2 separate regions of the Homo sapiens genome follow, and region 2 is linked to region 1. Evidence: fine-mapped expression QTL. Tissue or cell type: lung. Region 1 holds a variant in brackets; the other region holds the start of a gene. All regions are shown on one strand. Distances are between the middles of the regions.

The links. PIP is the estimated chance that this variant, and not a neighbour inherited with it, causes the effect. A credible set is the group of variants that fine-mapping cannot tell apart.
Region 2: it holds the start of GPR34, and the variant in region 1 is the best candidate, but not a certain one, in a credible set for the expression of GPR34 in lung (GTEx, PIP 0.87).

What each region holds. Positions count from the first base shown.
Region 1 is chrX:41,501,753-41,504,675 of GRCh38, forward strand. No RefSeq gene overlaps it. Among named protein-coding and RNA genes, the nearest start is that of CASK-AS1, 15 kb to the right of the region's middle. The variant G/C (reference allele first, on the strand shown) is at 1,396.
Region 2 is chrX:41,687,231-41,690,153 of GRCh38, forward strand. It overlaps GPR34 (G protein-coupled receptor 34), which reads left to right and starts at 1,743. Exons shown (of 3, transcript NM_001097579.2): 1 at 1,743-1,854; 2 at 2,513-2,605. The region is part of intron 5 of CASK (calcium/calmodulin dependent serine protein kinase); the gene reads right to left.

The DNA of each region.
Region 1 (2,923 bases):
AACATTTGAAACCCCGTCTCTACTAAAAAAACAAAAACAAAAAACAAAAAAAATGAGCTGGGTGTGGTGGTGGGTGCTTGTAGTCCCAGCTACTCGGGAGGCTGAGGCGGAGCTTGCAGTGAGCCAAGATCACGCCACTGCACTCCAGCCTGGGTGACAGAGCTAGACTCCATCTCAAAAAAAAAAAAAAAAAAAAAGACATTATTTGATAATGTTCAAAACACATTCCTGATAAACATTCTTGACAAACTAGGAATAGAAAATAAGTCAGCGTTCTAGAATCAAGAACCATTCTAGCTAGTTTAAGTACAGAAGGAATGTATTAAAAGCTATTAGGTCCACACAAGGTAGCTTTTAATTACAAAGGGGAAAATCAGTAACTTAATAGTGGAGAAACCTGGTAGGCACCACTTTAATAAAGTGATCAATGTTCACATCACCAGAAATCAGACAAATTGACAACTTGTGCCTCCTGATATAATGCACTAAGAAGGACACACTATCACTTCTGTGGTATTCTTACAGAAATGCATACCTGAATTTAATCATGAGGAAACATCAGAGACACCAGAATTGAGGAATGTTCAACAAATAACTGGTACTCTTCAAAAGTGTCAAGGTCATGAAAGACAAAGGAAGACTTAAGAACTAGCCCAGATTGAAATAGACATGATGATGACTAGGATGATGTGTGATCCTGGACCAGAAAAAGGAGGACATTAGTGAGGCAACTGGTAAAATTTGAATAAAGTCTCTAAATTAGATTACAGTAATGTATTAGTGTTAGTTTCTTAATTTTCATCTTTGTACTGTTGTTATAGTTTTACATTTTACATTTTTTAATTTTAATTTATATATATATATATATATATATATTTTTGTTTTGTTTTGAGACGGAGTCTCACTCTGTCACCCAGTCTGGAGTGCAGTGGCGTGATCTTGGCTCGCTGCAACCTCTGCCTCCTGGGTTCAAGCAATTCTTGTACCTCAGCCTCCTGAGTAGCTGGGAACTACAGGTGCCCACCACCAAACCCAGCTAATTTTTTATTTTATTTTATTTTATTTTTTTCTGAGACGGAGTCTCACTCTGTCGCCCAGGCTGGAGTGCAGTGGTGCGATCTCGGCCCACTGCAAGCTCCGCTTCCCGGGTTCACGCCAGTCTCCTCCCTCAGCCTCCGGAGTAGCTGGGACTACAGGCGCCCGCAACCGCGCCCGCAACCACACCCGGCTAATTTTTTGTATTTTTAGTAGAGACGGGGTTTCACCTTGTTAGGCAGGATGCTTTCAATCTCCTGACCTCGTGATCTGCCTGCCTCGGCCTCCCAAAGTGCTGGGATTACAGGCGTGAGCCACCTTGCCTGGCAATTTTTGAATTTTTAGTAGAGATGTGGTTTC[G/C]CCATGTTGGCTGGGCTGGTCTCCAACTCCTGACCTCAGGTGATCCACCCACCTCAGCCTCCCAAAGTGCTGGGATTACAGGCATGAGCCACCGTGCCCTGCCTTTACTGTGTGTGTGTGTGTGTTTTTTTTGACGGAGTCTTATTCTGTCGCCCAGGCTGGAGTGCAATGGCATGATCTCGGGTCACTGCAACCTCCACCTCCCGGGTTCAAGAGATTTTCCTGCCTCAGCCTCCTGAGTAGCTGGGATTACAGGTGCGCACCACCACGCCCAGCTAATTTTTGTATTTTTAGTAGAGACGGCATTTCACCATGTTGGCCAGGATGGTCTCGATCTCTTGACCTCCTGATCCACCGACCCCGGCCTCCCAAAGTGCTGGGATTACAGGTGTGCACCACCATGCCTGGCCCTATACTGTTATATAAAATATTAGCATTTAGGGAGTCTGAGTATATGGAAATTCTTTGTACTATATTTGCAACTCTTTTCTTTTTTTAAAAAAATATTCAGGCCGGGCACAGTGGCTTATGCCTGTAATCCCAGCACTTTGGGAGGCTGAGGCAGGTGGATCACCTGAGCTCAAGAGTTTGATACCAGCCTGAGCAACATGGTGAAACCTCGTCTCTACTAAAAATACAAAAATTAGCCAGGCATGGTGGCGTGCACCTGTAATCTCAGCTACTCAGGAGGCTGAGGCAGGAGAATGGCTTGAACCTGGGAGGCAGAGGTTGCAATGAGCCAAGATAGCGTCATTGCACTCCAGCCTGGGCAACAAGAGCGAAACTCCATCTCAAAAAAAGAAAATAAATTCATTTATTTTTGTGGAGACAGGGTCTTACTGTGTTGTCCAGGCTGGTCTTGAACTCTCAGCCTCAAACAATCCTCCTGCCTCGGCCTCACAAAGTACTGGGATTACAGATGTGAGCCACTGTGCCCCACCTATATTTGGAACTTTTTTGTTTCAAAGTATCTCAAGTTTAATTTTTTAAATTTAGAATTTAAAAAACTATTAGGGTAGATCAAAGAATCCTGGGGTGAGCTGGGCATGGTGGCTTGCACCTGTAGTCCCAGCTACTCAGGAAGCTGAGGTAGGAGAATAGGTTGAGCCCAGGAGTTTGAGACCAACCTGGGCAATATAGTGAGACTCCATCTTTAAGAAAAAAAAAAAAGGAATTCTGGCATGGACCAGACATTCAATAGTGAAGAAAAAAAAAAAGAAAGAAAATCCAAACTGTCTTGAGGGGTTCCTCCGGCGAAGCCCCATGGCCACTGCTGCTGGGCATGGGAATCAGAACCTCTGTCACCTCTGCCCCTGACAGCCAGATGCCACCACTGCCATCCTGATTATAAAGCTCCTCATTGGACACTTACTCCTCATGTTGCTTTCTTCTGAATCCAGGTGCCTTACAGGGGCAGAACCTAGATCACACACATGCCTGGTTGTCAGCTGCAAGGGAAGCTGAGAAAGAGAGCCTGTGGCTTCTACTTTGAGATTTACTTATAATGTAGGAAATTCCAAATTTCAGA
Region 2 (2,923 bases), 190 kb after region 1:
TCTTGAAGAGATATATGCATACTCATGTTCACTGCAGCATTATTCACATTAGTCAAGAGGTGGAAGCAACCCAAAAATCCATCAACAGATGAATGCATAGGGAAAATGTGGTGCATATACAGTGGAATATAATGCAGTTTGATAAAAGAAGGAAATCCTGTAACATGCTGCAACGCAGATGAACCTCGAGGATATGACACCAAGTGAAATAAACATGTCACAAAAGGACAAATACTGTGTGATTCCACTCATATGAAGTGTCCAAAGTAGTCCAAATCAATGAAACATAAAGAATCATGATTGTCAAGGGCAGGGGGAGAGGAGAGAAATCGTTTAGTGGTGAAGAGTTTTAGTTTTGCACGATGAAAAACTTCTAGAAACTGTTGCACAACAATGTGAATATACTTAACACTATTGAATTGTATACTTAAAAATGGTTAAGATGGGGCTGGGCGCAATGGCTCACACCTGTAATCCCAGCACTTTGGGAGGCTGAGGTGGGTGGACCACCTGAGGTCAGGAGTTTGAAACTAGCCTGGCCAACATGGCAAAACCCTGTCTCTATTAAAAATACAAAATTAGCCGGGCATGGTGGTGCATGTCTGTAATCCCAGCTACTTGGGAGGCTGAGGCAGGAGAATCGCTTGAACCTGGGAGGTGGAGGCTGCAGTGAGCCGAGATTGTGCCATTGTACAATCTCTTGTCGCCTGGGCAACAAGAGCGAAACTCCGTCTCAAAAAAAAAAAAAAAAAAAAAAGTTAAGATGGTAAATTTAATGTTACATATTGTACCACAATAAAATAAAATCCTGCCAATACAACAATATTGCAGGACTAATACAGCAACCACCTTCCTTCTCAGAGGTTCTAAGGGGAAGTAAGAGCTACAAAACATTTTTATTCTATTAATTTAAAAATATCCTGTCCCATAAATCATATTTATAACAAACAAAAAGCTCTGGAGAATATAATGTTCAGAAGAGTGTACCCAGAAATAATTAGAATGTTAGATACAGCCCAATGAGTCAAATATTTAGTGCAAACAAGCTGCAGGATAACAATTATGGGGAGAATAAAAACTAACTTCTTCATTTCAAATGACAACAAAAAAAGGGAAATAACACTAAACTGCAGGGCCAGCAGTTACATAGATGGACAGATAGTGGTTAAATTTTGGACTAGGATCAAAACCAAGACTGCAGAATCCCATCATTATTTCGCTTAAAATACAGGTGATGTTTTAATTTGCTCGGGAGAGTTTATCATAGTGATCAAAAGGGGAGAACACCATCAGAAATCTCATCTAGTCCTAATAATACAAGTTTGTTTTAGCAAAGGTCTTAAAGGAATACATGAAAATATGCTAAAATAATGTACAGATGAAAACTTAAGAAACAGAAATTCAGTGCTTGTGCTTTGAAAGTCCATATAGCATATTATGTATCATTTCTTACAAAACACAGAAAATACATATTTCTGCTTAGAATTTATAAAACTTTTAAATTTTGAGCGGGGGGAGGAAAACATTCCACAATTGTCAAGTTGGAAGGTATTCATAAAGAAGATATAAATAATTTCCTAAAGTTCAGTGTTGGTTGAGCTTAAAGTTGTTCCATGGTAGTAGGGCTTTTTAATATTTTCAAAAGGAATCTGAGAGTTGTCATACCGAAAAAAGAAAAAAAAAAAGAGGGGGAAAAAAAAAACCCTACCACCACATATGAACATAAAAAAGAAGAGAACCCCAACCAATTGCACCACGACCGGATGGAAGAGCCCAGCTGACACAACCAAGACGAGTCTCAGTGTCTAGGGAAGCTTGGGGTTCTGCTCCTTTTACTTCAGGCGAACCTGAACTGTGAGTATTTCTTGATTTCGGCTACATAAATGAACCTTTATTTCAGCTAAAATTTGATTATCTGAACATTCAAAGTGAAACGTGATTCATGGTGATAAGGCTACTCTAATGTCAGCAGTTATTCGCTTTTAGAACTACTGAGTAAATTGCTTGAATGACACCTCTGCCTTGATTTCAAATGAGACTGTCTTTTTAGTTACTTTAAGTACTTTAAGACATTCAAGGTATTTAAGCTCCTACTGTCAATATAGTCACATTGTTGATACTGCATTTGGATACTGCCATCAAGATTTTGCAGATCTACTTGCATGAATTAAAAGTTATTTTCATATGCAATACATTTTATTTCTAATGTATTATAAATTATAACTTATTGACTTTAAGTTATGCTGTCTCCCTATTTTAAATTACTGTCTTTTCTTTATTATATTATTACTATTTTATAGTATTACCAGACCATATAACATTTAAGTTTGGTGTTTCAGAAGTAAATAAGGTGAATATTAGATAAGAGAGAAAGCAAAATATGCTTTAGTTCAAATAATAATTTTTTAAAATGTGTTTCTAGGGACACAGTTAAATTTGTAACAAAACCTAACACACTATTAATAGTATTATTTCCAAAGTAATATGTTTTCAATTTTCATTTTTTATACAGCAGTTAATGCAATTTTGAAGCATGCCCTGAATAGATTCAGTCATTATCAAGTCAAACTAAAAACGGTGAAAGGTTGCGACTATTACCAAATAGGTATGTATTTCAACATAGCAATGTGATATTTTCACAAACATACCCAAACTGCATTTTAAAAGCTTCTGCTCATCTGGAGTCACAGTGGAATCTGTTGGGTCCTGCCCTCTGGGTCCAGTACTCCTACATGAGCCAGTTGAAAAAAAACTGCAGGAGTAGGTGGTGGTGCGGGGGTACAATGCACTAATACTAGGTTTTTGAACTTGTGAATAGGATTTGCCAAGTAACAACATTTAAAAAACACTATCTACTATTACAAAACTATTGTGACCACTTCAATATAGCACATGGGTCACAAGTAATGCCCACTGGGAAATT